4 linked regions of the Homo sapiens genome follow. The protein of the gene in region 1 purifies or fractionates together with the protein of each later gene. This does not show direct contact. Each region holds a gene or a part of one and is shown on either strand. Other genes may lie near its edges.

Region 1 (7,222 bases):
TAAACCTGTCTGGAAAAATATATTCTCTCCTTAACTTGTGGTGTCATGGTATCCCTTTAATCACTCATTATATGTTATGACTTAGCTGTTTTAAATTTTGTCTATACACGTGCCTTGGGATAAGAATTGTGTGACTTCTTGTGCCAGTAAAACCATTCTTATGGTTCTCCACCCCTGTTCCCATCACATACAGAGTGCTAATTGACCATTAACTCATTCCATTTTTAATAATGGTGATGTGAGTCTAAGCTCCTTGGCTTTCTCCCATTGATTTCTTTCCTAGAGTTTCTTTTAGAGTCTCTTCACTTGTCTGAGTTCTTCCTGTTTTCAAGTCAGTCTACATTCCATCTTCCTATAGGAAACCCTTCCTGATAACTCAAGTTAATGGGAAAATGATGCTTTTTTTTTTCTTGTTAGGTCTTACAACAGTTAAGGTCTGAGGAATTTATTGAAAATGATATGTGCAATGCATTTGACACTTTATATACCACGGCTACTATTAACATGGCAAGCCTTAATTTTAAGGAAGCAACTGATATTTCCTGGTCTAAGAAATCACAGCACACCGCACTGTACAATCAGATTGCACAGTGAATCTTTTCATATCCAAACATGAGGGGTAAGTCAAGGAAGTGGATGCACAAGAAGATAAAGCTCCCAAGAGAAGAGTGGGTGCAATGTTTCTTAGTGCTTCTGTGGCTGTCTGTATTGGCAAAGGGGATGCTGCTTGCATCAAGCAATCAAGCAGTATTGGCTCTACCACTTTCTCAGGGTGACGTAGTTCAAGCCCTGTTCCCTCTCTGCTCCTCATTTTCCACATTTACAAAAATGAGGCAGAAAGATCTGCTCTGGTTCTTTTATAGAAGAAATCAATTCAACTAAAAGTTGGATATGAATGAGCTCTGAAGTTCTCTCTAGCTTTATATATCACCATCGCCACCCATTTTTCCACCATCTCTCTCTCTCTCTCAGCAGTTCTAGTTGGATCCTTTAACTAAAGAACTTCTTAAAGGACACTTCAATTTCTTTTCTTTGGCCATTGCTATAAAATGACATACCCTTGGTTCACTCCAAATTAGAATTACAGAAATTGCAGAGCCCCTGCAGAAGAAAAGATGTCCTAAAGTGTTTTCAAGATTATTATACTTAATAGATGTAGATAAGCCATTAAATTATGAGTTTTAAGAATTCCACTATCTAAATCAAATATTTGCAACTCCTTCTTTTCACTTTTGTAGAGATATGAGCTTCAAAGCTTCCATTTAATTTCAAAGCTTGATGACACTTGAGAAATAGATATCAAAGCCTTTTAAAGCCTAGTTCTTTCCAGCAATTGATAAGCTATAGAGTACTTGGCCTAAGAAAACTGAAGAAAAACCAGAATAAATTCAGCAGGATTATAATACCACGAAAAGTAGGCACTATGAAGTAAGAAACAGAAATATTCTCACTTTGGCAGGTCATGTGGGTGGGTGCAGCTCTTAAATTACCCATTAACAACTTCATCAAAAAATTCATGAGCAATATATGCTATTACTACAGCATTTTCTATATAATATATACTGGTAGATTCTCTGTAAACACCAATTTTCTAAAATATGAAGAAGCTTCCTCTTTCTCCTCCTCTTCTGTTTTCAGAAACAAATCTTACCATTTACTTCAAAGTAAATCTCCGAAGACAGTCTGACCCTGTACAGTGTGTACCCAACGATTGCTTAGTATTGTGAGGAACATCAGAGAGAACAGGTGCTAAAAACCTTTCAACTTTCTGCTTCTATGTGCTGTTTCTTTTTTTTTTTTTTTTGTGACGCCCTAACTTCTTCAAAGTTGTGGCTTAAGAGGAAGCTTTCGATTTGTCTTGCTGGCTTTAACACCAAAATGTCCAAAGCTCTAAGAAGCCATGGTCTTCTCTTTCGCCTCCTTTCCTTCTAGACCTTGGCCTCTGAAACTTAGCTCCTTGTATAAAACAAAAGCAAAAACAAAACTCTTGGCAATGGGTGAGGCCTCAGAAACCTCCAGGACACTCAGACTTAGGATATAGAACCTCAGAATCCAGTCTGAAGTCCTTGAAGACATGATAACAACTTGTGCAAATGTGTTATCAGGTTTCTCTATTGCTTCCTTCCTTGATATGGGTCTCTGGCTCATTAAGATTTAAATCTTAACTTTAAAAGGCCAATAGCTCCCCTCCACTGTTTTGCTCAGACAGATCTGCAAAGTTTTAAGATGATGGTCTAACAATATTTTTCTCAACAAGCCAAATTATTTTAGAGAGTTAAGTTCCTCTTTCTTTTCTCCCTTTCTCATATATATATATATATATAATATATACTGTATAATATAATATATATTATGTAACATAAGTGTATTACGTTATACAGTATATACTATAGTATATATATATATATAGAGAGAGAGAGTTTATTTATTTAATTTTATTTTGTGCTCTTAACCAACAAACGAATATCATTTGTTCCCAGGGCTCTTTCTCTCGGGAAAACAACAAGAAAAGGAAAGGGAGGAAGAGGAGTCCACTTACCGTCCTCTGAACGACCAACACCATAATAGTGGCCACCGTGAAGACAAGGCACAGAGCCAGAGTGGCTGTGGTCAAATAGAAATAGCTGCGGCTCGTGGTCCCCAGGTGGCTGGCCACGGAGCCCGCCGGCACATGCATGGCTGTGTCTCCAGGAGGGGCCATTCCGTTGAGTGCTTGCTGCAGCCCTGGGTCCATTCTTTATATAGTCTTCCCCACATCACACCTTATCTCTCTTCATCTGATTCAGTTCTGGGCCCATCTCTGTTCCAAGAAGGATTCTCCCCCTGAATCCTGAATCATGTGACTTGGAAAAAAACCTTCACCTGCTGCCTGGTGGAGAAACTCTTCTCTGGGGGCGTGAGGCGAGAGGCGGCAGCAAGGGTGGGGGAGAGGTTCATTTTTCATTGCCAGGGATTAAGTTGTGTGCAGAGAAACTAGCTACAGAGAAGGTGGCTGATGTCAGAGGGCGCGTAGGAAAATGACGGTTCCCCGACTGTGTGTGTGTATGTGTGTGTGTGTGTGTGTGTGTGTGCATGCGTGCGCACACACAAAGCAACTTCTGTTTCGTTTAGACTCTGCCACAAAACGCCTTCCTGTTCAAGAAGCTGCACCTTCTTTCAGCGAGGCCTGTGGCTCAGAAGACCTCCCCAGATAATGAGTCCTTGCTGGGTCTCAGGGAGGCCGGATCCCTCGGACTGCAGTGTAATAACTCCAAAGGGTTCGGTTTGATAGGCTACTGCTGAAAAAGGGACATGCTGCAGGTTCCCTGGGGGAAAAAGGGCACACAAATGGAGATATTTCTCCAAAGGGGGACTGGCTCATGGCAGTATGAAATTTGGGGTTCAAAGATACTGTCAGAAAGCAGGAATCTGGAAATATCAATCTTTTGAACAAACACTCCTGCAGAAGTTTTGGGATCTGTTAAACTGGCAGATGAACCTGGACCTGCCGTAAAACTCATGAAGAGGGGAAGGAATTGGCAGTGAGATGGTGTGGTGTGGAATATGGGGGCTGTGTGTGTTCTGCGTGGTGTACTATGTAGTGTGTGTGTATTTGTGGTATGGGGGTATGTGTAGGTGTTGTGTGTTCTCTATGGTATATGTATGCAGTGTGTGTGTGGTGTGCATTTGTGATCTGCAATGCATGCCGAGTGTGGTGCGTATGTAAGTGTTGTGTGTGGTGTGTATGTATGTGTTGTGTGTGGTGTGTTGTGTCTTGTGTATGTATGTGTTGTGTGTGTATGTGACTACTATAATTGAACCTCTACTGTCTCAGGCACAGCGCTAGGAGTTACATGTGGCTTCATTCCACTTCCACCTCCACCCTCCGAGGCAGGCAATGTTTATTTTTTACAGATGGGAAAACTGAGGCTCAGGGAGGATGAAAACTATCTCAACCTAAGTCGCAAGTGTCGATCACTGAAAGAACTTGGGTGCACTTTGCAGCCTGCCTGGCTGAAAGCTCGTGCTAAGTCATTCAATCTTCACTGCACCTGAAAGCTAAAACCTGAAGTGTGGTCTCAGCCCTTTCCCTTCTTAGCCTTGGGCCATCATACAAGTCTTTATGGCTTTCTCTGTTCCCAATCTGCATTACAGTCATCAGGAAGACCAAGCGAGATGATGTCAGAGTACTCCATGAATAAAAATAGATTTGGGGATGGTGTTGGACAATTCCTGTTAAACATCCCAAGCTGTCTACTGGGCTAAGTCTGGAATTTAGATACAATAGACAGATTACCTGGGGGACAGAGTCAGATCACATCTGTGGTTACTAATGATCTCCATTTCAAAATACCGTTTAAAATGTTAATCACTGCATAGCTGCTGCCTCCAGATGTGGGCCTTTGAAAGCTCCATTTGGTATCACCGTGGAAGAAGCTCATTCTGCATAGCACCTCCTTTCCTTTCTGCTCACTTTTTGTCTGCAGCGCATCACTTTGAGCCAGCAGAGATCCCAGATGCCCCTAAGGAAACGTCCTGTGTCTAAAGCCAAGCTTGGATTATTACCACTGCTGTTCTTGCATAGAACCAAAACTTCTGAGCATCTCCCAAATTAGATCAGGCTTTAGGATTTGGTCTGGATATTTCCTCCCAGTGAGTCTGTAAAAGCATAGATCCTGGAGACGAAAGAGACATCAAGAGATAAATTGTTTTCTTGGGCTAAATAGAGTGGGGGGCGATATACCCATTTTACAATCAAGGAAACCGAGGCCCCCGTGATCCCAATTGAGTTTGGTTTTGAAAACAGTGTGTTCACGTTCGTTTGGTCCGGTAATTAAGGTGGGAACGAGGCAAGCCAGTGTTTTCTGGGGCATGTACCTGGCTGATTTGGGGAGAAGGCTGTGTCCTCTGGTGGGCACGGACAGTGAGTGGGTAGCAAGGGCTCTGTGGTCTGCCCAGAGTTGCTGAGAACCAGCTGCTCCCTTGGCCCTCTTGTTCAGCCTCTTTGATCAAAGTGGAAAACTTCTGATTGTTGAATGGAAGCTGTGGGTGTTGAAAAATAAAAAGGCTTTGCTTGAAGTTCGGGTCTTCCTGAAGGCCTGTGGGGCTGAGAAGGGCAGTGGAAAAAAATGTTTGTCTTACAGTTACCCGTTTTGCATACAATACAATGTCCTGGGAGGGAAGGCTGACAAGGGGGAAAAATCACCCTTTGTTTTTACTCAACTTTCTGAGCAGTTGAGATTTTCGGATCAGTTCCTAGTACAGTAGTTTGTGGGCTCAATTCATTCTTTTGCTGTGACACTCCTCTACTCACAAACCTTCAGTGGCTCCCTATTTCCCACCCCCATTGCTCTAAGCCCCTCTCTGCTTTCCAGCTGTTCTAGAATCTAGCCTGGCCAACATAGAAATCCATGACCTGTGCTAACTGGCTTCTTTCTGTCTTCTACTCAAGCTGTACGATGTGCAGATGGAAGGAGCCTTTATAGAATTTCTTGTTGAGTAAGTTTTAAATCCTTTCTGGAAGCAAAGCTGTATAAGGAATATAAAAACATAAGAAAACAGGGCTGCTTTGGCTGAAGCACAGGTGGGACAAAGAGAAGGGCTAAGCTTCACCTGCTCATTTGCCCTTTTCTGGCATGGGGTCTCTCCAAGGTGAATAAAATTTAGAAACTTCAGAAAATTTGGCTTGAATCCTTCATTCCACAAAAGGAGGAAACTGGGACACAGAAATGGGAACAACTAAAGGAAGTACATACCATCAGGGAGAGAGACAGGTGTAAGAGTCCCTTCTGCTCATTCTCTCTCCTTTTTTTTTTTTTTTTTTTTTTTTGACTGAGTCTCGCCCTGTCACCCAGGTTGGAGTGTAATGGCGCAATCTCGGCTCACTGCAACCTCTGCCTCCTAGGTTCAAGTGATTCTCCTGCCTCAGCCTCCTGAGTTGCTGGGATTACAGGCACACACCCCTAGGCCTGGCTATTTTTTTTTTTTTTTAATCTTTTGTAGAGATAGGGTTTCACCATGTTGGCCAGGCTGGTCTTGAACTCCTGACCTCGTAATCTGCCTGTCTCGGCCTCCCAAAGTGCTGGGATTACAGGCATGAGCTACCGCACCCAACCCCCTCTGCTTGCCCGGCCCTCTCTGCTCATTCTCATGTCGGCTCTGCTAATATTCCAGGTGCATCCAGGCTTCCTCTCGTGTTTTACTTGGCTTTCCACTGCTCCTGTTCTTCCTCTCCCTTCCAGCCTTTGCCAACCCGCCTCACCATCTCCAGGAATGCTTGCCCAGATCTCTCAAGTCCACCAACACCCTCTCTGGAATGCCTCTATTTTCATGCCACATAACCTAATTGTCTAATTATCTACTTCTCTTGATGTGGAACCCAAGTGTGTAAACACATGTAAATGTTGCCTTGCTCATAAGATGAGAGTCCCTGAGGGCGGTCTGCACTTTCCTAGTCTTCTAAGTCCTTGCATCCCACCTTGCGTTTCTTGCTGCTGGTCATATATGCAGGGTTGACCTTCAATCTATGCTTCATGTTTATGGAAAGAGAAAGTTCTAGAAGAGTGGCTTATGTAAAGGAATTGTGTGGTGGCATTCTTGCCTCTCTCTTCTCAACTGTACTCCGTGTCTCTATCTTTCTCCAGAGAATGGCCTCATGAGAGTGACCACCCAGCCTCCTTTCAGCCTGGAATTGGCTGCTGAGATGTGGCTGCAGTGCCTGAGACTCAGTGGGCAAATAGAACTAACGTCTCATCCCTTCAAGAAGGAAAGCCATTTTGAAAAGTAAAGGGAAGCCAGCAGTAGCCATTCCTCCAACATTGCTTTCCTGTATAAGGGACTGGGAGATCTCTGTTGTAGAGACTAGAGGCCTTCAGGTGTAAGCCCACACCAGCAGTGGCAGCAGTAGCACCTGGGAACTTGGTGCCACTTTAAGACCCTCTAGACCTACTCTAATTCAGAAACTCAGGCTGGGGTCTGGTAGTCTGTTTTAACAAAGCACCCCAGGGAATGCAGATGCCTGAGACCATTTGAAAAACACTGATTTAGGGAAACAATCTCCAAGAGATCATCTGGTCCAAAATTTAGCCTTTGGACAGGTAAACTACCACCTCCATTGTGTAGGTAGGGAAACTGAGGCATAATAAAAGTTATTGTCTGGGGCCATGTAGCTGGGTCATGTTGGTTTACAGACTAGTTTTTCTGCTCCCTTTATTGAGCCCTCTTTCTAACCTTGACTACGGCT
Region 2 (5,037 bases), on another chromosome or scaffold:
GGATGGCGGGGGCAGGCAAAAGGAGCCATGAGCCAGAGCCCAAGTGTAAGGAACAGCTGTGGCCATAGGGGCAATAAGCCCGGGTCTGCCAGTGAGGGGACAGGGGCAGTGAGCACGGGTCTGCCAGTGAGGGGACAGGGGCAGTGAGCACGGGTCTGCCAGTGAAGGGGACAGGGGCAGTGAGTACGGGTCTGCCAGTGAAGGGGAGGCAGCCTCCATTTTCTAGTCTGTGAATCTGGAAAGCGATTTAGTGAAATGAATGATGGAGAAAAAGGAGACAGTGACAGAGAGGGAGGAAGCTGGTGGATGTTGAGGGTGAGACTGAGCGGCAAAGGGAGCTGGGTGGAAGCTCTGATGAGGCGATGCACAGAGGCCGTGGCGCTGTCTGTGGTAGTGCTGGTCCCACTTCTCTGTCTGAAGTAGGAACACTCCTTGCCCCCATCTACCTTCACAAGTAGTCAAGAGGTAACAGGTATGACATTGCCAGATGACGCTGGACATACAAACCACTGGACAAGCAGCAAGCCCAGCCACCTTAAGTTTGAAGCCTTGCCCAAGCTTTAATGTCATGCTAACCAGTTACCTTGTTAGAGCTGGGAAGCCACCTTTTGCTCAAAATGCAGACTTCTGCCTTTGAAAACACACCACACCTGATTTTAAGTGCTTAAAGGACAGAAAATGTCGTTGCTTTAAATTGTTGCTTTGTTCAGAGACATCTGGATTTGCTGTATCCATACAAGCAAAAGCTTTTCCAATTCCAGAATCAACCCACACTAATTTGTTATTGCCTCGTACTGTATTGGCCCAGCTGTAATCAACTCAGCAGGCTTTTGGTTGTAAATTCAAGTGGAAATTGAGTTGGTCTTATTTGTGCCCGTTGATATCTGAGGGCTGTGAGGAAGATGGCCAGTAGGTCAAAGGGAATAGTGTTGAAAAGCTGACCAGTACTGGGCAGGTGGCCGGCTGTCCCTCAGGCACCACAACGCCGAGCCACGGTAAGGGGCATGAGCCACATTTGCAGAATATAGCCAGAGTCCTTCCAGACCCTCCTGATTCGCGCCAGGAGGCATCCCAGGGCACACAAGTGTCAAGGGCCTACTCAGGTGCTTGGCAGAGCTCTCTGTGTGTTATTAACAGAAGAGGCTACGGCTTAGAGTGGAAAGGAGCATGTGATGGCTAGCGGTGGGCAGCCTGTGTACTCTGCCAAGTTTGGGTGGTCCAGGTCCCCACGATTTCTGTGTGGAGGGTTGTCCGGCATCTGGCCACTAGGGGGGCCGGTGGTTCTCACACACACGCAGCGGGGCTCCTTAGCACCTGGCTTATACAGCTTCCTGGGGACGCCAATCCAGTCTCTGCTCACACCTCCACTAAGGATAGACGGAAAGAGGACTTCTTAAATGTGAGAACTCATGAGTCTCTGGGAAGGGGAGAGCAGGAAGCAGAGAGCCAGGCCTTCTGAAAAGTAGAAGCCTACCAGAGTGTTTCCCAAGGCAGCAGGCTACAGCGCTCAGCCCCTGAGCCTTCATGCTCTCTCCTAACATCCTCCAGCTTCCCCTGCAGGGCCACCACCACCTTCCCCAGGCCAAGGGCACAGTCCATGGTTCCTTTCACTGTGCTCCCCAGCCCCTGCCCTGCCCCTTCTTAGGAGGCAGCACCACGTTCCTGCACTGGTGGCAACAGCTGTGAAAGGGCTTCCCCTGCTGGCCTGTGAGCTTCTCAGAAGCAGTGTCTGGGTGCGACTGTCCTCTTCCTTCCCCACTACAACCCAGCGCAGGTCAGGGTCTTCACCTTCTTCTCTGGGGCACTTGGCTGGGGGTGGGCAATTGGGCCCTGGCCCTTGGCCACCTGGGTCGGCCTTCTCTGGGAAGCCCTTGGCATAGAGTGTAGCTGCAAGCTGTCCTGTGCCCCACAGGTCCAGTCCTTGATGGCACTAGGCTTCAGACACGGAGGATTCAGCTGTGGCCCAACAACCTGAGCACCCTCCTATCTTGGGCAGGGGCCTTGCCCACCTCAGGGCACTGGGCTCAGTCTCTGATGGACTCAGAGGCCTTGCAAGAAAGAAACTGAGGTTCTTGGAACTGACGCCTCAGACAGCTTCCGGTGCCTGCTGTCAGAGAAACTGCCCCCAGCGAGAAAACATCCTACTTCTAGCTTACCAAGAACAAGGCTGTCACCCAAACGCCTCCCTCTTCTACCCAGCCTCCATCCCATCATTGGGGATCTGTACTCCACACCTTGTCCCTGCCTTCGGCACTTGTTCCTCTCAGTCTAATGGGACACACACAGGTGAACAGAAGACAACAAACTGAGCTGAGGCACAGGGATAGGGCCCCGCAGTTCACTAGGGTGGCCCTGGAAGGGTTTTGTGGGGAAGGCAGAGCCTGAACTACTCAGTCATGAAAGCAAGAAGAGGTTCAGGAGACACAGGGGAAGGCTGTGGGGAGGGAAAAGGAGGCAGGGCCCAAGGAAGCAAAGTCAAGCATCTGAACGCACGCAGGCCTCCTGGAGTCTCCTCCTCCTGGAGTCTCAGAGACCAGTGCTCTCTGAGGCTACCTGCATTCAGGCCTGTGTCACAGGAAGGCCCACGCCTATCTTAGCTTCTCTCCATAAAGTGAGCAGGCCAGGTTCTCACAGTCCCCTCTTTCTTGAGATGACACTGGAGAAGCTGTCTCTTCAAAGCTAGCGGCCAGGAAAGAAGGAGCTTTCCTTCCTGCTACCTTTGCCCTTGCTCCGCTCATTTAAGGCTGAGAACTCCGAATTTGCAGTGGTTTTTTTTGTTTGTTACTGTTTTTTTGTTATGTTGCCCAGGCTGGACTCCAACTCCTGAGCTCAAGCGACCTGCCTGCCTCAGTCTCCCAAGTAGCCAGGACCACAGGTGTGGCCCACAAGCCACCATGCCCGCCTCACCTGTTTTTAAGACAGCAGTTGAAGCCATCACTGCAGGTACCCTCCCCACCTCCTCGTCCCTCTCCTATAGATAGGCATGATTTGTGCTGTCAAACAGGAAACCAAAGCCCGTGGGTGGCTGAGCAGGCCAAAGAAAGCAAGAAATCCTGCTTGTGCCTTCTCATTCCCGGGTCAAGGTTGTGTCAGCAGGATCTTTGGAGAATTCGGAAAAAATAAAAAGATGCCCAGGCCTCAAGTCCAAGTCTCAACCCATTCAGTTGAGTGGAGTGAGGTCTGACCATCCGTAATTTCGGCAATTCCCCAGAAGATCTAATATGCAGCCAAAGTTGAGAATTATTATCAGTATTTTGAAAAAGCTCCCCAGGGTTAACAATCAATTCCTGAATTCACTGAATACTGCAGGCAGGATGGCCTAGGAGTTGGATTTGGGACAGGCAGAAAGGAGAAGAAGGGGAGCCTGCTTACCTCTTCTGGGAGCACCAGAGCCGGCTGCCCCTGGCTGAGCTCCACTCCGCGTTGCACGGCGGGAATGTCTGCTTCTCTTGCAGCTGTAGTTTGTTGGCCTCCAAGCCTCTGGTGATCGCAGCTTCTACCTGGGTCAGTGCCGGGGTGGGCAGCCCATCCTCTCCGTAGAACCGTCCTGTCACCCTCCCTGTGATGACAGGAAGGCAGATGTGAGTGAGAGTGAATACTCAGCTGCTGAGGCAGGTGTGGGAAGGCACAAGTTCCCAGGGTTTCTGACTTCAGTCCTGCTGGTGCGCGTTTAATAAGAACTTCTACTGCAGGCACTCCTGGTGCCTTGCACACCAACCTCTTAGCACCCTACAAGCCCCCACACAGCTGCATCCCTCTTCTAGCTGCAGAGCCCTTCAGCACAGAAACCATCAAACCTCTCTCACTTCCAGACAAGGCTTCCCTGAGGGCACAGCCATGTGTGATTCATTTCTCCATGCTTCCATGTGCTTGGAGCACACGCTGGGTATTCAATTAATGTTTGATGAATGAATGGCTTATTGGCTAACATTTTTTAAATGTTTATTATAATAGAGATGGGGTCTCACTCTGTTGACCAGGCTAGTCTTGAACTTCTGGGCTCAAGCAATCCTCCCACCTCAGCTTGTTGAGTAGATGGGGGTACAGGTGTAAGTCACACTGTGCCCGGCTTTAAAATGCCTGTCAGAATTTGTAAAAGTCTAAGCTATGGCAGCAGCCAGCAAGTGGTCCACCAGCCTATAGGCCAGAAGGAAAAACAGGTCAGTTCTCTCAGCCCAGGGTCCTAATGTAGCCCAGTCCTGAGGTGCAAATGCCCTTCAGAGGCAGCACCTGCCACAAGGCAAGAGAAGCAGAAAGGAAGCACTTGAGGGAGGTGCGACCGAAGAGGGAGCAACCCCTAAGAACTAGCTTTACCTTCGATTCTAGTGGCGCGTATGTTCAGCGCATCTGAGATTCAGCTCGTCTCCCAAGTCCAACGCCCTCCCTGACTTTCCCAAATCCGTGTTGCCTCTAGCCTGTGACCTGCATTAGGAGCCTGACTCCTCCTCCTCTACATCCACATCATACTCCCTTCCTTGCTGTCTGATCGGATCCATCAGAAAACCTCGTCAGTCCTACCTCTGAACAGATCCTGATTCTGTTCACTCCTTTCCATTCCCACTGCCATCACCCTCCTCCAAACCACGGACTGTGGCAGTGGCCTCCTAACTGCTCTCTGGTCAGCTCATGCCCTCCTAGAGTTCTCTGTCCATAAAACAACTAGGGGATCTTTTAAAAACATGAATCCTACCATGGCTCTCCGATGCCTGATTAAAACCCTTCAATGGCTTCTTAAAGCAGACAAAAATGCAAATTTCTTATCAAGGCCTCTAAGGCCCTGTAACCATTTAACTGATTTGCTTCTTCAGCCTCTTACAAGCTACGTCCCCCCTCGTTCACGGGGGGCTCCAGCACACTGGCTTCCTTTCTGTGTCTTGGCTGTGCTTCCCCACTCCCCACCTTCGCACCGCTCTTCCCTGACCCAGCACACTCTCCTCAGGTCTCGGTGTGGCTGCCTCCCACTCACCTGCCGGTCTCAGCTTAACGGTCATTTTCTCCAAGAAGCCACTCCTGAGCATGTGCTCTAAAGGAGCCAAA
Region 3 (6,941 bases), on another chromosome or scaffold:
AGGTTGCAGAGAGCTGATCACACCATTGCACTCCAGCCTGGGCTACGGAGGAGACTCTGTTTCAAAACAAACAAACAGAAAACCAAAAAAACACTTAGCATAGTACTTAGAACATGTTTTTCCCTGAGTAAATGGTGCTATTATTATTCTTCCACCTGTTGAAGTTCCTGTTCAGGTGCTGAGTCTCTTTGTTTAAATATGGATTCCTCCCAGGAGGATCTTGCTTAACACATAGGAATAGAGAAGATAAAGGTTTACTCATCTAGTGTAATCATCCTTTTAGAAATTGTCTTCCTAGTGGCTTCCCCATAAATTCTTCCATACACCTGTCCAAGGAAACTGTCCTGTGTGGACCAGAAGCCTCCCCCTCCTCATGACTGGGCAGAGAAACTAGAGGCCTTTCAGGCCAGGCCCTCAGCAACTCCAAACTGAGTTGCCTTGGACACATACCAGTCTTTGAATTCATTTACTAAGCAGGCAAGGCAGAGTGGAAACAGTGGAACTATGTTAATCTCCCGTCTTTTCTCCTCTAAACCCTAGTACTAGAGATGTAAGCCTTGAAATGCTACTAAGGAACGTGCGGGTTTCACAATAGCAGGAGGCCATCTGAGAGGAGGACAAGACTCCACAGGCATGTTGGATTTGGGAAGCAGGGCTATAGTCATTCATTCATTCATCCAACACATAGTTATGTAATTCCTATGTGACAGGAACTATTTCAGGCATATAGGATACAGCAATGGCTTGCTCAATTTATTGAGACTTGTTTCGTGGCTCAGCATATAGTCTGTCTTGGTGAATGCTCCACATTCCCACCAACAGACTTATAAAGACAGTATTGTTTATTATCATCTCAAATTTACGGTGGAAAAAAATGAACCTTACATAGTTTAATTTCCTTTAGTCCTACCCAGCTACCAAGTAGCAACACTGGAATTTGAACTGAGATTTCTGACACCATAATCTGAGCTCTTAAGTTTCTCTTTTACACATAGAAAAGGAGAAACAAATTGTCTTTTCATCTTATCCATTTGACTGCAGGTAAAGTCAACAAGTTTCTAATCATGGGGTTCTGAAAATAATATTTACATTGCTCTGAGTCACGGGGATTTTCATCAAATAATATTCAATAGTGGATACTACTCAATACTACTGTGAGTTGCCAAGAAGGAATATTTGGTAAAAAATATAGTAATTAAATTTTGCTATAATTTATGATTATGTAACATGATTAAATTGAGCATGGCATCATTTAACATCCAACAAATTTTGTTTTGGTATTGAAGAATGATGTGTTTAAGTTTTAAGGCTGGATTTTCTTTCTAGACACTTTCAACTATGAAATATACACAATATTGGACAATAGTTAACCGTTCTTTTGATGTTGTTGTTTAGAAAATTAATCTCAAGCGAATAAAATAGAATTCATACAATTAATGAATCCTATTATTCCATATGGATGAACTCAGAACTAACTAGAAAGTAAGTTTCACAGAGATTTTTGAGTTTTGTTCACTCGTGTGTGTACAGATTAGGCACTCAGAAAATAGTTGAAGGAATGAATTGGGAAAGCAAATAGAATATGAAAGCCTTCTACCCAACACAACATGTCTTTGAGTTTAGGTTTAGGGTGGGAATAAGAAAAATAACATGATATGCATAAGTTATCTTAAAATGATAAAAAGTTTAATTTAAAAACCTAATTTACCAAGAGAACCGAAAACATATGTCCACACAAAAACTTGTACACAAATGTTCATAGTAACATTATTCATAACATCCCCAAAGGAGAAACAACCCAAATGTTCATCAACAGATGAATGATTAAACGAAATGTGATACATCGATACAATGGAATATTATTCAGTTATAAAAAGGAATGAAGTACCAATACATACTACATCATGGATGAACCTTTAAAATATTATGCTAAGTGAAAGAAGACAGACACAAAGGGCACATATTGTATTATCCATTCATATAAAATGTCCAGAATAGGCAAATTAATAGAGACAGAAAGTACATTAGTGGTTGCCGAGGGATGAGGGGAGAGGGGAAATGGGGAGTGACTATTAATGGGCATGGGGTTTCTTTTGGGGGCGATTAAAATGGAATTAGATGGTGGTGATGGTTGTACAATCTGGTGAGTATACTAAAACCCACTGAATTGTACGTGCCCTTTAAAAGGGTGAATTTTATGGTATGTGAACTCTCTTTTATAAAGTGGAAAAAAACTCCTAAGATCTCTTCAGAACATGTCAAAATACATTATAAAATAATAGACATGTGTTTACAAATCTGAGAGTATTAGGAAATGTTCCCTTGTTTAATTATAAACCAAATGGAATGTTTGGAGATTTCAGTAATCTGACAGGGAACATTAAGGGGATTAACCTGACTTCCCCAGTGTTAACAATACCAATTTAAACTGCATCATTCAAAAACTACATAGTCATATTAAAGCATTTGTAGCAATGACTTCCACGAAAAAAATACCAATTAAATTAATTACCCATTAAAGCTGCCATCATCTGAAATACCTCATATTTATATAGTGCTTTTACTTCCTCAAGTATGAATTGTGCCTTAAGATCTAATGTATGGGAGAGTCACATCTCTAACCATTTAATTAAAGGTAGAGAAGTGGGTGGGATTGGATAGAAATTTATTAGCAATGCTGACATTCCAGATTGGAACACAAAGACAAGCAGGATGTAAGAAACCTAAAAGTTCGCTTTCAATGCAGATAGTTAAATGCCAAGAACTATAATTGCCACATCCTGGAGTACAATTAAAAAATATGTTGAAAAACAACCAACATACATAAAAATATACACAGTGTTAAGTGCAGACTATGAAATTTCCCTTGGAAACAGAATCCAGATCAAGAAATAGAATACAGCACCCGGAACTAAGGTGCTTTTTCGTTTTCTTAAAAAAAAAAAAAAAGTAAACCAAGTTTATTTTGCTTTTTAAGTAGTGTTGTTCTTAAAGCACTACAGGTTGGTAAACAACGTATAAGGTGCTTTTTCTCAGGCCAAAGAGCCATAATAGTTTAAATTTCCCGGTCCTCAAGAGCGGACCGGGTGGGCAGGAGAGGACCCTGGGGTGGTGATGTGTAAACTGTATTATGCACTTTAGCCTGCTGGATGGCAACTAACACCTACAGTAGTTCACCCTCATTTTAACCCCTCTAAGTAATTGTCTCTTATTCTGAATCTAGAGATTCAGAAACAGCGCCAATGTTTACACACGACTTTTGAAATTTTCCCAGGAGTCTTTCGTTGGAGCAATACATCTAGATGCCTTTTTCCAGCAACAGTTTAATCAAATTCTGGAAGCAGAAAAGTGTCCTGTGAGGACGTGCCTTTCCTATCAAAGTGCTGAGTGCCTGGACCCTCTTTCCGGAGGAAACAGTCCCCTCTGGACCTCGTTCGGCCTCTCTCCATCAGACACCCCAAGGTTCCATCCGAAGCAGGCGGAGCACCGAACGCACCCCGGGGTGGTCAGGGACCCCCATCCGTGCTGCCCCCTAGGAGCCCGCGCCTCTCCTCTGCGCCCCGCCTCTCGGGCCGCAACGTCGCGCGGTTCCTTTAACAGCGCGCTGGCAGGGTGTGGGAAGCAGGACCGCGTCCTCCCGCCCCCTCCCATCCGAGTTTCAGGTGAATTGGTCACCGAGGGAGGAGGCCGACACACCACACCTACACTCCCGCGTCCACCTCTCCCTCCCTGCTTCCTCTGGCGGAGGCGGCAGGAACCGAGAGCCAGGTCCAGAGCGCCGAGGAGCCGGTCTAGGACGCAGCAGGTGGGACTCGCGGCGCTGGCCCGCAGGCTTCCCGCACCCCCTTCCACGTTGGTGCGCATGCCCGGGGGCAGGGCCGGTTGTAGGGAGGAGGGAAAGGAGAGGGAGAAGGGGGAGGAGACGTCCCCAGCCCAGTCCCCGGCTGAGCGCTGGCGGTCGGTGCGGCGTCAGGTGCGCCCGCCAGGTGAGCGCGCTCCCTGGCACCGTTGGCCCCCGGAGGGTCGGGCCCAGTTGCGGCGAGCGGGTGAGTGTTGGGCGCGGCGTCAGGGGCGCACGGGAGCCCGAGGGTCCCCGTGGGGGGACCGCGGCGACTATGTTAGGGGAGGTGCCGGGGGGAGGACGCTCCGCGCTGGTTTCGGTGGCAGTTTCGTCCCCGAGCTGGGACTCGTGGGAACCAGAGAGGCGCGGGTCTGCGGAGAGAGCAGCACCGGCCAACTTGGGAGGCTGCCTCCTGGGGCGAGGGGTGGCTTGGAGCCGCCGATCAAGCTTTATTCCGCGGAAACGCTGAAAGCTAGCAGTGCCTCAGCGGCGCGGGCAACTTTTCACTTTTATGGGGCACGACATTCCTGAACAGCGACGATCCTGCATCCGCTCTGGGGCTGCAGTTTGGGGGGGCGGCCTTCATGGAGAGGGATCCTGCGCCCAGCTCCTTGGGGGTCCTAAGCCTGAGGCTGCAGCGAGGCGGCTGTTCGGCGGCCCGGGCGGCTTAGATCCCGGGGGGAATTTCATTCCTTCCGCTCCCACCCCACCCCTTTGGATATCCCGGGGAGACGGGGGCTGGATTCAATCTGTGAAATATTCCAGGAGTCACGGTGTGGGCCACACTGGCTACTTCGAATCCACTTGTTGCGAGTTGTGTGAACCCGCGTCGATTTAAGCTGGGGGGCGGGGAGTTAATTTCGAGTGAGGCTGGACTTCGAGGGAAGCTGCTCACGCTTCGGATTCTCATCCGTGACCAAAAGGGCTGCCCCCAGGGGGGCGGAACTGCCTCCGGGCGGTGCCTGCCCGGCGAACGTGGGCGCGCGCTGCCTGGGAGCGCCTCGGTGCGCACGGAAGCCGGGACCCGCGCCCAGCCGGGCCACGGAGTTTGGGGACCTCCGGGACTGGGCCGGCCCCGCGCGCCAGCCATGTTGCCTGCGTCGGAGGAAGCGTGCGGGGAGCAGGGGTCGAGGGCCAAGATGGCCTCTGCGCCTAGGGGTTGGGAGCGGCGCCGAGCCCCTCGCGCTCCTCGGGAAGCCACCGGGCCCGAGGGAAAAGCCGCGGCATCCTTAGGCCGGACCCGGGGCTCGCTGGCCACACTGCCCGCTTGGGGAATTACCCTGCTCGAGGAGGAGGCGGCGGCTTTCCAGGCCAGTCAGTGTGTGGCCCTTAGGCAACAGGTGTATTATTGGGATACCTGGAAAAGAGAAACGTTTCCCATGAAGGCACTTATGGTGTTTTTTGGTGATTCTTGGTGTGATAGAAAACTAGGCGTTCCCAAGTGTAACAATAGTAACAGTAGTTCTTTTGCACTGTACATATGAGGTGCTTGTGTGTGTGTGTGTGTGTGTTTTTCCGAGACGGAGTCTGGCTCTGTCCCCCAGTGCAGTGGCATCATCTGGGCTCACTGCAACCTCTGCCTCCCGGGTTCAAGCGATTCTCCTGCTCAGCCTCCCGAATAGCTGGGATTACAGGCACCCACTAGTATGCACAGCTAATTTTTGTATTTTTAGTAGAGACAGGGTTTTGCCATTTGGTCAGGCTGGTCTCGAACTCCTGACCTCAGGTGATTCGCCCGCCTTGGCCTCCCAAAGTGCTGGGATTACAGGCGTAAGCCACCACACCCAGCCTTTATGAATATTTTCTTAGTGGTGCTTTAAAATAGACATCTTAAGTGTGTGTGGGAGGCAGAGATATTTCCTCAAACAAAGCAACACTTTTTTTTTGGTCGTTTTGCAATTTATTTAGTTATTAGGGGCCTCCTTTGTTAGGTGACGGAGCAGAGGATAGGGAGATCGGTAAGACATGATTCTCCACCTTTTGGCAGTTTCCAGGCCATTTCGGGAAATAGTGGGCAGCAGTGCCTCCTGCACGTGAGGCACTGTGGTAAAAGCATTCTGTATTTTCTCATTTAATTATCCCAACAACTCTAAAAGGCAGGCCTTAGTAGAACTCCATTTTAAAAGTGGGCAAATGCCGTGGGGGAAACGTTGCAGGTGGGCTTGCTTGCAAACTGCTTCAGCTAATATGGGAAGGAGTATCAGAAGCAGCGGTCCTTGATATTCCAGAACCAGATTTGGGGAATTTTTCTGGACTTTTCTACCATTGACTAGTAACTGTAGCCTGATACAAGATTTCCCGCATTTTGCTTGATATCAAGGTAAAATTCTTGTTTTCTTCTAAAGGTAGTGTTGGAATTACTACCTTTTCAAAATAGTATATTACTTTTAACCACATAAATGATCTGATGTAATATCTTTCATCTTCCTAGGAACCTCCCAGAAGGAAGTTTTCTTCAGTTGCATTTTAAGGCTTATTTGATTGGAATATTAATGGATCTTTTTCATCAAATTACTATTTATGGAAATAAGAGAGTAAACAGACCATGCAGATTTATGTTAGGCTTTTTGTTTTAACCCCTAGGCTTGCCGCTGTTCCGTAACCCAGTGATTCCAGTCTTGGCTGTGGTATGAATCACTTAGGGATCCTATTAAAACACAGATTCTGATTGGGAGGTCAGGAGTGGGGCCTGGGATTCTGCCTTTCTAACAGGCTCACAGGTGATTCTCAGACTGTTCTGTCTTCTTTTTCTCCCTTTCTCTTAGACTCTACGCACTTAATTACATTTGACAAACTGAAGTTGGAAAAAATAACGTTTATTGAGTGTTGTGTGAAGAACTTCAAGGCATTCACTGCTGGATTGAAATCCCAACTCTAATAATTGACTGTTGGTTTTATTAATTGAGTACTCATTGACAATCACTTTGTGCCAGGGCTAGTTCCAGCGACCAGGGATATAAATGATGGTCAAAATAGACATTTGATGTCTGGGATATGGGCATTCCAGATGCGGTGGAGATGATACCTATATTTTAGGTATGAGGGCAGAGGGGAGTTTGCTCTGAAAAAAAAAACAAGTTTTGTGTGATGGAGTGAGGGA
Region 4 (5,634 bases), about 15 Mb from region 1:
CTCCCAAAGTGCTGGAATTACAGGTGTGAGCCACCGCACCCGGCCAGGATTTATTTACCAGTTTCAATGGTTAGGTTTCCTCACCTGAGCTCAGGTTCAGGCTGTCAGAGGTGAGTTTTACTTTACCAGTACCTCAATTTCCTCCCACGTTAATTTTGGGAGAAAGTCCATCTCTTTGATGAAATATCCATCAGCTAATTTAACTTCTATTTGTCTGGGGAAGAGCCTTTAAGGTAAATATTGCTTCTGTATCGCGCTGACTGCCCACCCGCCTGTCCCGGATATGGTGAGTCTCACAGCTGTGCTGCTGAAATTCATTCTGAACTTTGGAACCAAATAAACTAGAAAAAGTTAGCAAGTGGCATTTCACATGATAAAATCTAGAATTTACTATTTTATAGTCAGTAGGTCAATAAAGCTCTCGTCCACATCTTATAAGGGAGGTGGGGGAGGCGGGGTCATGATCAACCGTAGCCTTTTCAAGTTACAAATCAGTAACGGCAGTCCAAAGGTGGCAAACATATTTATTGCCTCACTGTAAATAGAGAAAATCTTGTCTTCTCTCGACCAGATGCCCAAAAGGTTATAAAAGAAGTATAACTTAGCTCCAATTTGAGGATATGTACTAAAAATTTTAAACGTCACCTTGGTGTTTTTTTCAAGACTAAGTGTGATACCACGTAAGGCATTTCCATGTCATAAATTAATTCTACCATATTTTTATGTAAAAAATGCTGCACGTTGTTGTGTCTGCAGCTGTGCTGTGATTATGAGACAGATACAATGATTCACACTGGCTGGAAGCTAAGTCTCACGTCCCAGGGATCAGGGCAGTCCAGCCCGGTGCTGCCACAAAGGGTGGTGGTATCAGGTCACACCTAGGACCTGCCACTTTAGACTGACCTTGTTTGATCCACGGTTGTGACCATGTATTACCACAAATTTAACAATAAAAAATTGTTTTAAGAGTATCTGAGAAAGGACTAAGCAGTCATTCCATTTTGTGTCCTTCCCTTGTTTTAAAATAAGCAACGTCCTATACTTCCATCATTTAAGATCATCAAGCTGACTTGTTCAGTCTGGGCCCATGTCATCCTTCCAGAACAAGCACATCCTAGGATTTCAAATGGTTCTACAAAATAAAGTGAGAGATTGACCCAAGTATAAAGTCTTAACAAGCATCTCACCATGGGAACCAACGACTCAAATTCAAAGCCAACGGTCTCATTGTGATTCAACTCTATGATATATGGTTGGGGGGACTCTAGCAGAGATCCAAGCTGAGATATGGCACAAGGCAGGCTGGGGCTGATACCAGCTGAGACGGTGAAGGATTCCACAGCCAGGGCTGTATTAGCAGCTAGAGCGATGGACAGGCGGGAGGGGCCTGTCTGTCCAGGTCTGCTGCAGAGGTCTTAGGTGAAGGCCCCACCCCCCCACACACACACACACAGGTCAGCTCAGATCAAGAGTGCTCGGCGGGCACGGCCACATCCTCCGGTCAGACACCGTCTGCACCTCCAGCCCCGATTTTAACTGAGTATACTTCAAGTCAGTGAACTCTGTGTAAAGAACGAGACAGAGCAAAAGGATGTTTTTGGCCAATGAGAACACAGTGCCCCGCAGCCTGCTGGTGAGAACCACCCAGTGCCCCCCAGCCTGCAGCAAGTCCCTGGACTCCTTTAGTTGTGACCGTAGCTTCTGAGGCGCGGGTGCTGTGGGTCAGAAGCTATTGCCGGGCCTGCCATGCACAGCTGTTTTCAGGTACTTCTGTCTCGGTCAGTACATTAAGTGTGAAGGGGATTTTTAAAAGTTCATCTCCAGCTGCAAAGAACAGCTGGACTGCTGCCATCTTGCTAAATGACAAATGCGCGCAATAGATTCACGTGTTTTCCACAATCAACTCTTAGATTCTATATCCCAGCTGGGCACAGTGGCTCATGCCTGTAATCCCAGCTACTCGGGAGGCTGAGGCATGAGAATCACTCAAACCGGGAGCGGAGGTTGCAGTGAGTTGAGGATTGCACCACTGCACTCCAGCTTGGATGACGGAGTGAGACCTCTTCTCAAAAAAAAGATTCTATACCCAAAAGTCTAAGGTGCAAACAGGCAAAACCCCAAAGCGGTCTTCAGGGTTCTTCTGAAAGGCAAGGCCTCTGGCGTGCGGAGCCTCCCAGCTGTCTCCTACCCCATCTGGATAGGAGCTCAGTGGAAATCCAGCCGCGACTGCACAGTCTTGCAGCCCTTGTCTGAGTAGATTTTCTCGTCTCTGGGGAAAAACGTCATTTCCTCTGCCACTCTTGTGACAATGTCTTCATCTATGGCAGAACCACGGGCCCTCATCTCGGCCCTCACACACATTTTCACATGTCTGTACTCCAAAGGCAGGAAGGGGATAAAGTAATCAATGAGGTTTTTGTCGATCAGTCCACTGTGCCACAGGCCACCTGCAGAACAAGACACAGCTGGGTTTCCTGCCACCACCGCCACCTGGCCAAGCTCCAGTCCCGACCCTCAGCACATTCCTCATGTCCGTACCCCTTGAGAGAGTCTCTTGTCAGTGTGCAACAAGCCCATGCAGGACTCAGCTGGACACTCACTCACTGGTTTCTAGCACAGTATGCCCTAAGAAAATTCCTGACTTTAGCAAAGTGAGGAAATCCAGTGGGATCCTGTGGCTTTGTGAAACACTCAATGAAAGAGCAGACGGCTCACTGCTGGACAGTTAAGGGGCTCCTTTACCCTGGTGGACTCACTGTGTTTATTATTGAAGACTCCGACAGACAGTACAGGTTCCAGGTCCTTCAGCTGAATGTCTTCCCTCTTTCTTCCGGCCCGCCAAAAGTCAAGAGCCGTCTTAGTTATAAGGTCCCCGCCTGCATTGCTGAGTTTGCCAGAGAAATAAAGATTAAAATCACATATTAAGACTTCTGTGTCTGCTGGGTGTGGTGGCTCATGCCTGTAATCCCAGCACTTTGGGAGGCCGAGGCAGGTAGATCACCTGAGGTCGGGAGTTCAAGGCCAGCCTGACCAACATAGAGTAACCCCATCTCTACTAAAAACACAAAAATTAGCCAGGCTAATGGTGGTGCATGCCTGTAATCCCAGCTACATGGGAGGCTGAGGTGGGAGAATCGTTTGAATCCGGGAGGTGGAGGTTGCAGCGAGCCGAGATCATGCCATTGCACTCCAGCCTGGGCAACAAAAATGAAACTCGGTCTCAAAAAAAAAAAAAAAAAAAAAAAGACTTCTGTGTCTTACCAAGAAATGAATCTGCTCTAAGTCTATTTTTCCTTTTGAGACACTCTGTCACGCAGGCTGGAGTGCAGTGGCGCAATATCAGCTCACTGCAACCTCCACCTTCCGGGTTCAAGTGATTCTTCTGCCTCAACCTCCTGAGTAGCTGGGATTACAGGCGCCTGCCACGACGCCCCTTCTAATTTTTGTATTTTTAGTAGACACGGGGTTTCACCATGTTGGCCAGCCTGGTCTTGAAATCCTGACCTCAAGTGATCTGCCCACCTTGGCCTCCCAAAGTGCTAGGATTACAGGTGTGAGCCACCACACCCGGCCGAAGATCTATTTTTCATCAAGGAATATTTACTGAGTGCTACTAGACAAAAAAGTGTGCTCTCATGGAACTTAAAGTGTTTATTCACAACTAGCTGGGATAATGCTATGGCCCTTTATAACCCTAAAAACCAACATGCACAGTTAATAAAATTAACTGTTTTCATTTCTGTTTCATTTTTAGGGTCGGGGTCTTGATTGTCACCCAGGCAGGAGTGCAGTGGTATGATCATAGCTCAATAAAACCTTGAACTCCTGGGCTCAACCAATCCTCCTGCCTCGACTTCCCCAGGAGCTGGGACTCCAGGCACATGCCACGATGCCCAGCTAAAATTGCCTGCTATCAGTGATTATTTCTTTTTTTTTTTTTTTTGAGACAGAGTCTCACTCTGTCACCCAGGCTGGAGTGCAGTGGTGTGATCCCGGCTCACTGCAAGCTCCGCCTCCCGGGTTCACGCCATTCTCTTGCCTCAGTCTCCCGAGTAGATGGGACTACAGGCGCCCGCCACCACGCCCGGCTAATTTTTGTATTTTTAGTAGAGACAGGGTTTCACCATGTTAGCCAGGATGGTCTCGATCTCCTGGTGATCCGCCCGCCATGGCCTCCCAAAGTGCTGGGATTACAGGTGTGAGCCACCGCGCCTGGCCCAGTGATTATTTCTTTAGTTCATTTCCACAACCCACACTGTGTGCCATGCTGAGACTGGCAAAGGAAAAGTAAAGCAGTAGGTAAGTGCCTTGTGCCAAGCAGGCACTTTCGTCCTGGTAAACAAAGTGCTGATGGTCCTCAGGACCTCATTTTATCATTGAGAGAATGAAGGGCTTGTGTGCCCCAAAAAACCGCCTCCCGCTGACCTGAGAAAGATGAAGATGGCTTTGCGGTAAGACACTCCGTCAACCTGCTCGTAGTAGTCTAGAAACGGCTTGATTGCGTCAATGATCCCGGGGTGCAATTTATCCATCTCGTCAAATATGAAAACAGAGTTCGCACATGCACTCACATTACCGCGGATCCACTTCTGTAACTGGTCCTGGACCAACCATGAAAGAAGAAACAGGATGCGAAGCTCAAAGGGTGCACCAAGAGGCGCGCAGGCTCCATCTGCTCCTCATGCACTGAAGGACGAGGTCAGAGCTCTTAGAATGGCACCCTCACCCCCACTCGCTAGGTAGCAGCTTTTCTAAAACCTTATCTCTAAAAAGTGGAAATTGGCAGAGATAGATGCTAAAATGCAGAGAAGTTTTTTCCTAACTCAAATGACTATTAAATCTGACTTTTTAAAGGTATAAGAGGTACAAGATCCGTGATTCTTTTCTTCTCTTTTTTGTCTTTGGAAACAGGGTCTCACTCTATCCCCCAGGCTGGTGTGTAGTGGCGTGATCTCAGCTCACTGCAACCTCTGCCTCTTGGGTTCAAGCGATTCCCCGGCCTCAGCCCCCCGTGTAGTTGGGACTACAGGCGCCCCGATCCCCTGCACCATGCCTGGCTAATTTTTGTATTTTTAGTAGAGACAGGGTTGTGCCATGTTGGCCAGGCTCGTCTCAAACTCCTGACCTCAGGTGATCCACCCACCTCACCCTCCCAAAGTGCTGAGATTACAGGAATGAGCCACCCGGCAAGATCCGTGAATATCATTCACTGCTAACGTAGCCATAGTTTTCATCTCTCTTGGACTACAATCTCAAGTTAGTACTATCAGACATACTGAGGAATAAGGAACTAGATCAAGACCTGCACAGTACACAGTGCCCCAGACCAACAGAGCTGACTCAATGACATTTCATGAAAAGCATCTGTTCCAGATGTTTTCTTCAAACAAACATAAAGACACTCAAGCAACAAGCCCTCAACCCCAAAGCGTGAAAGGCTATACCAGGAAACTCCCCCAGACATGCCCTCAACCATTTATATTACTCTGTTTCCGGAGATTTATGAAGAATGTAAAGAACAAGAAAATCCTTCCTTCCTTCCTTTTTAGCAGTCTTCCCTGTCTCACGTCAGTTTGTTGGGCAAACACTTCTACTTCCTTGTTCAGTTAAGTTTCTATTTCTTTCTTCAGTCCC

The links.
Region 2: the proteins of TNFSF8 (region 1) and CYB5D2 purify together in Homo sapiens (co-immunoprecipitation; 3 studies listed by BioGRID and IntAct, with this or other methods). This does not show direct contact.
Region 3: the proteins of TNFSF8 (region 1) and OCLN purify together in Homo sapiens (co-immunoprecipitation; 3 studies listed by BioGRID and IntAct, with this or other methods). This does not show direct contact.
Region 4: the proteins of TNFSF8 (region 1) and TOR1B purify together in Homo sapiens (co-immunoprecipitation; 3 studies listed by BioGRID and IntAct, with this or other methods). This does not show direct contact.

The regions. Positions count from the first base shown.
Region 1 is NC_000009.12:114,927,570-114,934,791, forward strand, and holds the start of TNFSF8 (tumor necrosis factor ligand superfamily member 8), read right to left. Parts: upstream 3,023-7,222; 5' UTR 2,735-3,022; coding exon 2,540-2,734; intron 1-2,539.
Region 2 is NC_000017.11:4,153,196-4,158,232, reverse strand, and holds the end of CYB5D2 (neuferricin isoform 1 precursor), read right to left. Parts: intron 3,560-5,037; coding exon 3,373-3,559; exon of another isoform or gene 3,310-3,372; intron 2,944-3,309; exon of another isoform or gene 2,809-2,943; intron 2,287-2,808; exon of another isoform or gene 2,040-2,286; intron 1,368-2,039; coding exon 1,151-1,367; 3' UTR 536-1,150; downstream 1-535. UniProt on the Homo sapiens protein: Heme-binding protein which promotes neuronal but not astrocyte differentiation.
Region 3 is NC_000005.10:69,488,855-69,495,795, forward strand, and holds the start of OCLN (occludin), read left to right. Parts: upstream 1-3,935; 5' UTR 3,936-4,046; intron 4,047-6,171; exon of another isoform or gene 6,172-6,561; intron 6,562-6,941. UniProt on the Homo sapiens protein: May play a role in the formation and regulation of the tight junction (TJ) paracellular permeability barrier.
Region 4 is NC_000009.12:129,806,155-129,811,788, reverse strand, and holds the end of TOR1B (torsin-1B isoform 1 precursor), read right to left. Parts: intron 4,602-5,634; coding exon 4,426-4,601; intron 2,885-4,425; coding exon 2,757-2,884; exon of another isoform or gene 2,721-2,756; intron 2,448-2,720; coding exon 2,206-2,447; 3' UTR 1,563-2,205; coding exon of another isoform or gene 1,456-1,562; 3' UTR 508-1,455; downstream 1-507. UniProt on the Homo sapiens protein: May serve as a molecular chaperone assisting in the proper folding of secreted and/or membrane proteins. Plays a role in non-neural cells nuclear envelope and endoplasmic reticulum integrity. May have a redundant function with TOR1A in non-neural tissues.